Regions from separate parts of the Homo sapiens genome. Here region 2 is linked to region 1. Evidence: fine-mapped expression QTL. A gene starts in region 1. The other region holds a variant in brackets. All regions are shown on one strand. Distances are between the middles of the regions.

Region 1 (5,363 bases):
ACAGTGCTCACCAACCCTGCTGACAGGGCCTACTCCTGGTACCAGGTCTGCCTGAAGCTAGGGACACACAGGCTAAAGGTTGGGGGGAGGGGGGAGGGGACAGTGACTGCTAGAGAGGGAGAAAGGAGTGAGGTTTGAGAAACTTAACTAGTGCCTTGGGGACGGGTACCCGTGCTGTGCTGTCTGTCTCCAGACCAAGCGTAAGGGCAGAATACTGTCAAATCACCAGTCCTTCACCTTCCTTCTCTTTGTCCTTCAGCATCAGCGAGCCCATGGAGACCCAGTTGCTCTGAACTATACCTTCTATCAGGTGATTTCAGCCTCCTCCCAGACCCCTCTGGCACTACGCTCCCTGCAGAACCGCTGTCTTGTCCCTGGCTACTATTCTACCCATCTACAACGCTGGCTGACTTACTACCCCTCTGGACAGGTATAATCCCCACAAGAGCCCTCAGTGGGGTTCCCCTTCCCCTCTTCTTCCCTTCAGCCCAGAGGCTTCTTAGGAATATAGAGGGAACCACATCCCTGTCCTTTTAGTTGCTGATTGTGGATGGGCAAGAGCTGCGTACCAACCCAGCAGCCTCAATGGAGAGCATCCAGAAGTTCCTGGGTATCACACCCTTTCTGAACTACACACGGACCCTCAGGTGGGAGAGCATGACCCAGGGGAGGAGTACTGTATGGGAAATGGGGAAGCAGGTTGACCATGTCTGTTAGAGACATAGATTTACTCTGTCTCACAAGGAGAGACATGTCCCTGTGGGCAGGGAAGGGCATTGTGCATTTATGGAACTTGAGTTTCTCTTTTCCCTGCCACCTCATGGCCTCTTCCTGTTGAGCAGGTTTGATGATGATAAGGGATTTTGGTGCCAGGGACTTGAAGGTGGTAAGACTCGCTGTCTAGGCCGGAGCAAAGGCCGGAGGTATCCAGATATGGACACTGAGGTAAGTAAAGCCAGGGGCAGGGGAATCCCTCTCCACTTCCAGGATCTGATTCTGTGTCCCACTTCTTACCATTTCTGCCTTCATTTTCTCCTGTCAGTCCCGTCTTTTCCTTACGGATTTTTTCCGGAACCATAATTTGGAGTTGTCGAAGCTGCTGAGCCGGCTTGGACAGCCAGTGCCCTCGTGGCTTCGGGAAGAACTGCAGCATTCCAGTCTGGGCTGATGTCCCAGCCTCCCATACCAGCAAAATGCCCCCTGCTTCCCTAAGGGGCAGGTCCAGAGCAGGGCCCACAAGGGGGATTAGAGTGGCCTGGCCCCTCCCCCTCTACCTCAGTAGCCCCCAGGCCTGAGATGGCTGAGAAGGGAAGGGTATCCTTTTCCCACAGTTCTGGGACAAATAAAGGGGCTTCCTTTGGTACCCCACATAATAGTGCTAGGTACCTTTGACCCATCATCTTGGGAGGTGGGGAGGAATGAGAGGGTCCAGGCAGGGTGTAGGGGAATGTATTAGTCCAATGAGATTTCCCTCTTCATCCGCAGCAGTGTATCTATTCTATACCTGGCTATGGGAGAGACCCCTTGCATGGGAGGGACCCCTTGCTATGGCCCCTTTAGCCAGGCAGTGGGATCTACCTGTGGCCCGGCCTCCCTAATGTCATTCACATTGAATGGGGATGAGGTCGGACAGTGGCTCATAGAGCCGAGTATGAGCCCTAGCTGTGGGCTAGAAATGTCCTTAATAAACATCCTTATTTTTCTGTTTTGTCTGCCTCCCTGGAGTGGGAAAAACCTAGACTAAAGCAAGTGTCAGAAGTTTCCTCCCCAGTTGAAGGTTCATCTGCACATGGAATTTGGAAAGAAGGGAAAGGCCCAGGTCGACTAGAGTAAAAAAGGAGTTTATATATTTATAAATGCCAAATAAATACCAGAGGCCACCCAACGCCCCCTCCCAGACAGGGCTGTCTCCCCCAGCCCTAGGCTTCTAGGGTGTGAGACATCTTGGCCCCAAGCTATAGCCCAAGAGCAGCTGTCAGTCTGTGCTACCAGGGAACTGAGTGAGGATGATCTGTCCAGCCAAGTTTCACTCCCCCTGTGTGAGGGGCCCCCATAGCCACAGGCCTGGGTCCCTGTATAGGACCCTAAGGGTGAAAGACTCAGGGGGAGAAGGTGGCCATCTCGAGTGAGACCCGCTGCCACAGCTCCTTGGTCTGTTTGCTGCGCTTGAGGTTCTGTAGGATGTCGTTGAACTGCATCATGCCCATGGGCGTCAGGCAGAAGGCGCTGCGGGCACTCCGGATCGCATTCACAAAGTCGTCGTAGTCCGCAGGAGTCAGGTGAATCAAGCGGTGGTGGATGTACTGGAGGAGGATGTGTGCAGGATGAGCCTTAGTACAAAGCACAGAAACAGGCCCTGCCTCCCTCTGGTCCAAGACCACCCAGGAAGTGCTCCACCCTGCTCCATAATTCTAGGTTGTCACCTGCATGTATGCCTGCTGGCAGCGCTGCACCAGTTGGTGGAAGGCCGGGGCACGCAGGTGGTTGTGGGCATGAGCGGGACTCAGCCGCTGCAGCGTCTCCATGACGATCTCCTGCAGCACAAACGGGCTCAGCACCCCCTTGGCTGCCCCCACACAGAACTGGTGCACGTAGTTCACTCCTGGGGGGCAGGGGGAGGGGCATGAGACGGGGGTGGCCACCTCTGCCCTAGGGACCCAACTTACAGATCTCAGCTCTGGCCTGGCAGAGAGCCTCCCTCCACCCCAGGAGCTGAGGTAACCCTCCGCCCCCCGCGCACGCACACATACCCGACCAAGGCCTCAACTCTGAGCAAGAGCTAGGAAGGAGGTCTGGGATAAGGAAGGTGGGGAGAGCAGGTGGGGGGGGGGCAATGGTCCTAGGGAGGGGAGGTGTTACCCAGCTTTGCTGCCAGCCCCAGCAACCATTTGACATCATCAGTGTAGGGGGGGGAGCGGGAGAAGTTGTTGGGGTGATCGTTGTGTGCCCGGCGACCCAGCATCTCCAGTGCCAGCATTCCTGGGAGATAGATAAGGGTGGGCACATGGTACGGTGTATCCTCTTCACCCTTTACCCCAACCTGTCACCTGACCCCACAGTAAACAAATGAAGAGCTAGAGGAAGGGTCCTCTGAAGAGCCACTGGCACAACTGCAGGTAGGAGCACAGAAAGGGATGTCCTCTCACCGACACGGTAGGCAGCATGCAGGTGGTGCAGGCTGTGGGGATTGACTGGCTGACTGTGTGTCTCCTCCTCGGGCGGTGGAAAACCTCCGCTCACCAGAGGGCTGGGCTGTGTGGTCAGGGCAGGCAGTGAGGCACCTTGGATGGCTGGAAACGTGGATGCTGGATGGACACTGCTCACTAAGTGGGGTGAGAGCCATGTGAGGAACTCAGAGCCCAAAGAGAGACAAAGAACATTCCCTCCCCACCTCCCCTGCCCAGTGTGCCTCCCCTCCATTCACCTGTTCCCTGGCCCCACAACTCACAGGCCACACTGGTGGGCAGTGGAAGCCCTGGCTCTGTGTGGTAGGGATGTACTGTGATGGGTGCCATGGAAGGAACGGGGAAAGACACAGCAGTGGCAGCAAGTGAGGGAGGAGTCACTGAATAAGGGTACTGAGCCCCTAGGAATGCAGGATGCACACCCTAGGGGCAGGGAGAAGAAAGGGGAAGATGCCAAACTTGATTAGGATGTTGCTGTCGTGCTTCACCCCCACAAGCTGCTATCCTGACATGTTTTTTTTGAGATAGAGTCTCGCTCTGTCCTCCAGGCTGGAGTGCAGTGGCACGATATCGGCTCACTGCAACCTCTGCCTCCCAGGTTCAAGTGATTCCCATCTCAGCCTCCCAAGAAGCTGGGATTACAGGCGTGCACTCAGCTAATTTTTAGTAGAGACGGGGTTTCCCCATGTTGGCCAGGCTGGTCTCGAACTCCTGACCTCAAGTGATCCACCCACATCGGCCTCTCAAAGTGCTGGGATTACAGGCATGAGCCACCATGCCCGGCCGTCATTTCTTATTTTAGTTGGGCTGGGTCCCCCAGACTCCCACCACCTCACCAGGACTCTCCGACTGACCAATTATACTCCCAGAGTACCCACTCCAACCCCCTATGAATTCCCAGTATTTTCCCATGCCTTACCCCCCAGCAGAACACTGGTCTCACCTGTGGGTATGCAGAGCTGGGCACAGGGAAGACGGCAGGCCGGGGCATGTGAGGCATGGGGTGGGCAGGGTGAGCTGGGTGAGTGAGATACTGAGGGCTACAGGGCAGGTGGGGCTGTAGAGCAGTGTAGGGGTGCAGGCCAGGGGAGTGGCCATGCCCCAGTCCTGGACCCGGGTATAAACTAGACCCCACCGATATGACGGGCACCACTGTGGCTGCTGCTGTCACTGCTGCCGCTGCCACTGTAACCGGCTCAGTCCCTGGGCCCCCTCTACCCTCAGGCATACCCCGCCCAGCTTCCCCACCTGCCCTGATCCCACTGGCACTACAGCTTGTAGCCCCTTCACGGGCTGTGGATGAGCCACCTGCAGTTTGCTCATACAGCCAGAACCACTGGTGAGCAACCTCAAACAACACTTCAGGGTACACGCCCCCACCCTTAGCTGCCTCTTCCACTGCCATGCAGGCCTTCTCCAACATCAGGTTGTCCTGGAAGAGAGGGGCACAGAGTGTTAAGGGGGAAAGGCCTTTACCACATGGAAGGTGTTAGATGAGATTCCAATGTCTCCCTCAGAGCTGTCTCATTCCCAGGGAATCATCAGAGGTCAGTGTCAATGCTTAGAGTCCATTATCAGAGCAGTGAGTGCTTCACACACTGAGTAAATACTGACCAAAATGAGTCAAGACCCAGGTTATAGTCCCAGTTCCAAACTAATTTAACAGCCCCCTCCCATTCAAGTCTTAGATGTATGAGGCCTTCCCTAAGTTTTCTATCCTGAGTGATCATCTTGGTCCCTAAACCGTAGGCCTCCATTTCCTTATCTGTAAAATAGAAATAAACCTAACCTTTGAGTTGTAAGGTAAAGGAAAGATGGGTGTGAAAGCACATTAATGGGTAAAATGTTGCCATGAGAGGACCAACAATCATCTGTAAACTCCAGGATACGGGAATCAAGAGCTGGGCCCTTAGCTTTCCCATGCCCAACCTCCCTGCCCAGATGCCCCAGAAGAGGTTCCCAGATTGCCCGTAGAAATACCTGTTCCTTGCACTGCACCAGGGCCCGCTGGATCTCATTAGGGTTCAATGCATGGGCGTGAGGCAGGCAGCTCAGGGCCAGCTCTGCTGCCGCCCTCACCATATTGGAGTCTCTTGCCCGTGATGCCCTGTCAGCCAGGGATGCAACCTCAGGGGGTGTCAGGTGCCCATCCCAGCATTCTACCAGTATAGTCAGGGC
Region 2 (5,363 bases), 26 kb before region 1:
AAAAGAGGCCTAACTATATTTAGGTTTTTCTTTTCCTTTAAATCTAATTCTAAATTATGGACCATTGTCAATATTTGTAGCCTCTTTCGTTGATTATAATAATAATCCCTGAAAATGCCTTCTAAAGAATGCTGGCCGCTTGAGGGCAGGAGCAGTTTATCAGCTGTGTTTACCTGAAACAGCCCTCAGTGTTTGCTGGGCATTGTTAAATGAATGTGCAAAAGTTGAACGACAGACGGACATATTACAGGGGGACCTTACCCCCAGTGAGCTAATGATGACATTGATAATTACCCTTCATTTTTTAGACACAGTCTTCTGGGATATATTTTCAGTGTTCCACGTGGTCTTCATCTTGATGCGTCTGTTTCACATGTGAACGTAAAGTTCGTGAGCATCTAGTTGAGGCTGAGGAATCACTGCTTTCAACATTCCCTGTGGCTTACATCCCTGCATTTTTATGATCACTGTAGTTTTAATCACTGGCACTCCTGTGTTTCTATTTTCCACGAATTGCAAAATGCAATAAAAAATTCAAATATTGTAAACAAGCATGGCTATACTGACAAAGGAAGGCCAACATTTAACTGCTAGGTGATTTTCAAAAGCTCAGCATCTTTATGTAAAAAGCATAGTAGGGATGCAGCGAAGTCAGAAGTCAAATTTTATTAGAGCTGAGGAGAGCCTGTAGTAGCTTTTGCTTTTTCCCTGGTGGCTGCTCACTTGAATTTCAGACAGTTCTAGTAATGAGAGAAAATAAATAACATTACAGGGTGAGCTAACCCTATGAACCCAGACCTGTAAATTTGTAGCAAAATGATACTTAACCTCACAGACTTGTGTCTTAATCTCCTTAAGAGGCTTTTTTTGAGCAAGGCTGAGACATCTCAGAAGATACTAAATCTGTGTCTATGAACCTGACCACAAAAGAGTTCTTCCCTCCCAGGGTCTGGAGGGTGTGAGTGCCTGTCGGTCCGTGTGCTGTTTAACCCTCTGGTGCTGGACTCCGGGTCTCCCTCCGCTCTTTTCTCCCTGATGCAGAGCCCACACTGGTGCGCTAACCTGCAGCGTCTCTGTGCTTCTCTTCTTACCTCCTCTTTCCCCTTCTCTTTCCCTCTTGCTGTGGTGTGTCCAGAAAAGGAAGTCGAGTTCCAGCGTGCACCTAATGGTGAGCCTTGCCTGCCCACCCATCGCCCACTCCATGCTGCCTGTGCCCGCCTGCCAGCCACGCAAACCTGTTCTGCCACGTGCGTGTGCCTCACTCATCCTCACTGCATGTCTGTGCTGTGTGGGCAGGTGTGGCCTGTCCTGCCAGGCGGGGGCCATTGCCCAAGGTCACCCAGTAGCCTAAAAAGTGGACATTGGAAGGGGTGGTACGGCACCCCCTGCTGTGGAGCTTGGACAGACCCCAGCGACCCAGGGTAGGATGTGAAGCTGGTAGGGACTTGGGGCAAGCAAGGGAGAGACCCTCACTCTCTTGTCACCCAGAAGGAGAGGCCCTGCTTCCCAGGCATGAGGAGCTGCTTCCTACAGACTGGCAGCTGGAGGGCAACTGTGTGGTGGGCAGAGGAGCTGGTTGCAGGCTCCCACTTGTGAGTCTCGCTCTCCTGGCTCTGCCCCCGTGCAAATCCCATTCTCTCTAGCTGTGCCCAGTGGTTTATTCTGCCCACCCAGCCCTCGGGGGACAGCTAACTCATCTTTCTCACGGGACACTGGGCACCAAGGGCAACACAGCAGCCTGAGTCATTATGAAACCATCCATTAAAACCAGAGGTGGGGGCCGGGCGCGATGGCTCACGCCTGTAATCCTAGCACTTTGGGAGGCCGAGGCGGGTGGATCACAAGGTCAGGAGATCAAGACCATAACACGGTGAAACCCTGTCTCTACTAAAAATGCAAAAAATTAGCCAGGTGTGGTGGTGGGCGCCTGTAGTCCCAGCTACTCAGGAGGCTGAGGCAGGAGAATGGCGTGAACCCAGGAGGCGGAGCTTGCAGTGAGCCGAGATCGCGCCACTGCGCTCCAGCCTGGGCGACAGAGCTAGACTCCGTCTCAAAAAATAAATAAACCAGAGGTGGGGCCACTTGGGTGACATCCCAGCCCTCTGCAGGTTTTGTGGGCACCCTGGAGTCCTTGCCCCCTGTGAGGGTCTTGGCCTCAGCTGGGATTTACAGGTAGGGCAGCCCTCTCTAACCAACCCCGAACAGGTCAGCATCATTCACTGAGCTAGGTGGGCTTTGCTTCTTGGTGGGAATGAGAGACAGCAGAGCTCCCGTGAGTTTAGACCCACCGTCTCACTACTCCTGG[GC/C]CCCCTCTTCTCTAGCCTGTCGCAGTCTGTGGAGTCTTGTTCAGTGGAGTCACTTGGTGCCTGGCTTGAGGTTCCATGCCTAGCCCTGGGTTTGGGGATGTCTGAGCCATTGACAGCAAGCTGGCGGTGGACGGCTTCAGGTCTGGTCCAAGAGGCCTCCAGGCAAGAAGTAGGACAGTCAGGATGCTTTCTGTGTATGTCCTAGGAGAGAAGACACACATTCTAGCTGTCGATGTATCATCTGTGCCCTGTGCAGGGATGGTAGCCACACATTTGTCTCACTGCCTATTGAAGAACTTGCAGGCATCAGGCTGCTCCTCAGTGGCCCCCAACCCCACTGGAACTCAGTGAGATGGAGTACGCTGGTTAGGGAACTATCAGAGGCAAAGAACATCACATGGATATGGCTCCCTGCCCTGGAGATCAGCCTTCTTCCTTTCTTCCATCTTCCCCTTGCCCCTCCCTTGCTGTGCCCCTCCGTGTAATGTTTTTGTTTGTTCGTTTGCTTTTGGTTTTTTGAGATGGAGTCTTGCTCTGTTGCCCAGGCTGGAGTGCAGTGGTGCAATCTTGGCTCACTGCAATCTCTGCCTCCCAGGTTCAAGCAATTCTCTTGTCTCAGCCTCCCGAGTAGCTGGGATTACAGGCATGTGCCACCATGCCCGGCTAATTTTTGTATTTTTAGTAGAGACGGGGTTTCACCATGTTGGCCAGGCTGGTCTTGAACTCCTGACCTCAGGTGATCCACCCGCCTTGGCCTCCCAAAGTGCTGAGATTACAGGTGTGAGCCACCGTGCCCACCCACCACCATGTAGTTTTGAAAGGCAAGGAGATATCCCTGGTGGTCATGGTGCTGTTGGGAATGTTGGCCTGTGTGTGGCCTACTCTGTCCTGGGGGCTGGATTCTGGGACTACAGCTACAGCCCCGCTGGGTTTCACCTGCCCCTCCCCGGAACACTGCCCTTCTAGCTGATCAGGCCTAAGATTTGTCAGACAAAAAGGTGAACAGCACAGTCCTGACTCTGCTCCCTGAGGTCAGTGAATGCATTTTGTGTCTGAAAGGGACTTCCACCCCCATCCTCTGGACACCATCTCTTAGGCCAGGCATACTTTTCTTTTCTCCTTCCTCTTTGTTTCAGGCTTCGAGCTGGTGTTGTAAGAAGGAAATACAGGTGCTGGGTTGAAAGTGCAGCAGGAGACTGCCCACAGATAGGGGACCAGAGTTTCTGAATTTTGTTCTGCTTTCTTATAAACTACCCCCCTTTTTCCTGTACAGTGGGAAGAAGATCTTGAACTTCTTTGGGTCAGGTGTGGATTTTGCAATGACCTGGCACCTGGCATAAGCAGAGATTTCTGGAGGGATGCTTTAAAACAAGGCTTTGGGCTGGTCCCACCTTGAGGGTGCCCCCAGAGCTAGGTCTCTGGGCCCCACAAATACTTCCTCTGATCATCTCTCTAGCCATCGCTCCCATCTACACAGCGTTATGGAGGCCACCTCAGGCCTACCTCCTCCAGGCCAGACCAGGGGGCAAGGGAGGTCTGGGAGTTGAACCTGAGTGGCCTTGGGGACTCTGGAGGAACTAAACCATCTGTTTTCTTGTCTCAGCCACAGAGCAACAACAAAAACAGTCTCGTAAGCCCAGCCCAAGAGCCCGCGCCCTTGCAGACGGCCATGGTACCTCCTGACTACAGCTTCTCCGCCTCTGACCCTGGCTGCCTCCTGCCCCTTCCCTCTTCCTCCTCTTGTGCCCCCTCCCTGGCCTCCTGGCCTGTTCCTTTCTTGGTCCCCATAGAACTGACTGCTTTGTGTGCCGCCCTGTATGCCCCTTCCCCTTCATTGTCCCGCCTGGCCGCGCTCCATCCCGCATGGCAGAAGTGCTGCTCCTGCTCCTGCTCCTTTCGCTGGTGGGGGGAAGAGTGATCAGGGCTCTCAGCTGAACCTCCCAGGCCCAGCCCAGGACCCCTAGTGGGTCTGCTGTGGGGGCTGGGAAGGTGAGTTGCTTAGGAAAGGAGAGGGTAGGAGCTTTCTTGGGACCTGAACATCAGTTCTTGGAGGCCCCCTTGTAAAACCTGCCTCAGCCTCTCCTTTGCAAAGCCAGAAACAGGAAAGAGGGCTGGGGTCCCCACCTCTGGATGGTGCTGAGGTCTCCAGGCTCCTGGAGTGCCTCATGCTGGCTAAGTTCTCTCTGGGCTCCTCCAGGGGTTCTGTGTGCTCTTGGAGGTCCCTCTGCTAGTGGTGGCTAACTAGAGAGTCAGCAGGGGGGTGACTGGGAAAGAGGGAGAGGTGATGTTGCCTGCTACTCCCCTCCTTGCGGACCCTCATACCACATGACGTGGCGGCGTGGGGCCAGGAACTAGGGAAGGCAGAAGGCGGGCGCAGTGGGCAGCTCTCTGGGCTCAGCTTGCTGAGGGGGCCTCCTGTCCTGGCTCTTTCTGGGAGACCTCATTCTTCTGCCCATGTTCCTGCCTCACACATTCCCCGTGATGAACGCTGTGGGCGGGGCCCGGCCTGTGCCCTCAGTCCCACAGCTCCTCTAGTGTACCTGCCCCGTGGGAACCCCATGTGGAAAGAGCCCTCAGAACTGACAGGAATCAGGGACAGAGGCCCTTGCTGTCAGCCTCCTGGGCACCTGCACCTGCCAGGCCTCTCTTTCTTACCAGCCCAGTGCTGCTGCCAAAATCCAGGGCTATCCCAGCTGCCCGGGACCCCAGTTGAGCCGGGATATTTTGTCTTCTGGAGATGGCTGGTGGGCAGGCCTCAGTGGTCATCATAGGGTCTGCGGGGGTCCTGGGGTGCAGGTGGGGCTCCTCAGGGAAGAGCCATAGTCTGTCCCCAAGTCGGAAGGGTAATCTTCATCTTCTCTCACAGGAGCCACAAACCACTGTGGTACACAACGCTACAGATGGGATCAAGGTGAGTGGCTCCTGAGCCTGCCTCCTGCTTTCCAGGTCAGCAGGAGACAGGTGGGCTGGGTCCCAGGGGTCTACAGGCTGCACCCTGAGGCCAAGGTGTTTGCAGAGGCTCAGCTGAAGGTAGCCTGTGCCCACAGTTGCTCCATG

What was found. PIP is the estimated chance that this variant, and not a neighbour inherited with it, causes the effect.
Region 2: its variant is the best candidate, but not a certain one, in a credible set for the expression of ZSWIM8-AS1 in whole blood (TOPMed, PIP 0.73).

What each region holds. Positions count from the first base shown.
Region 1 is chr10:73,798,256-73,803,618 of GRCh38, reverse strand. It overlaps ZSWIM8-AS1 (ZSWIM8 antisense RNA 1), which reads left to right and starts at 2,220. Exons shown (of 4, transcript NR_038357.1): 1 at 2,220-2,279; 2 at 3,060-3,116. It overlaps ZSWIM8 (zinc finger SWIM-type containing 8), which reads right to left. Exons shown (of 26, transcript NM_001367799.1): 20 at 5,166-5,363; 21 at 4,129-4,617; 22 at 3,449-3,608; 23 at 3,147-3,323; 24 at 2,860-2,979; 25 at 2,424-2,602; 26 at 1,826-2,303. The coding sequence ends at 2,100. NDST2 (N-deacetylase and N-sulfotransferase 2) reads left to right here. Exons shown (of 15, transcript NM_003635.4): 11 at 1-45; 12 at 260-430; 13 at 538-647; 14 at 843-945; 15 at 1,043-1,703. The coding sequence ends at 1,168. NDST2-ZSWIM8-AS1 (NDST2-ZSWIM8-AS1 readthrough) reads left to right here. Exons shown (of 18, transcript NR_182658.1): 11 at 1-45; 12 at 260-430; 13 at 538-647; 14 at 843-945; 15 at 1,043-2,279; 16 at 3,060-3,116.
Region 2 is chr10:73,823,894-73,829,256 of GRCh38, reverse strand. It overlaps CAMK2G (calcium/calmodulin dependent protein kinase II gamma), which reads left to right. Exons shown (of 23, transcript NM_001367534.1): 15 at 1,136-1,168; 16 at 3,910-3,978; 17 at 5,173-5,217. Among named protein-coding and RNA genes, the nearest start is that of NDST2-ZSWIM8-AS1, 15 kb to the right of the region's middle. The variant GC/C (reference allele first, on the strand shown) is at 2,306.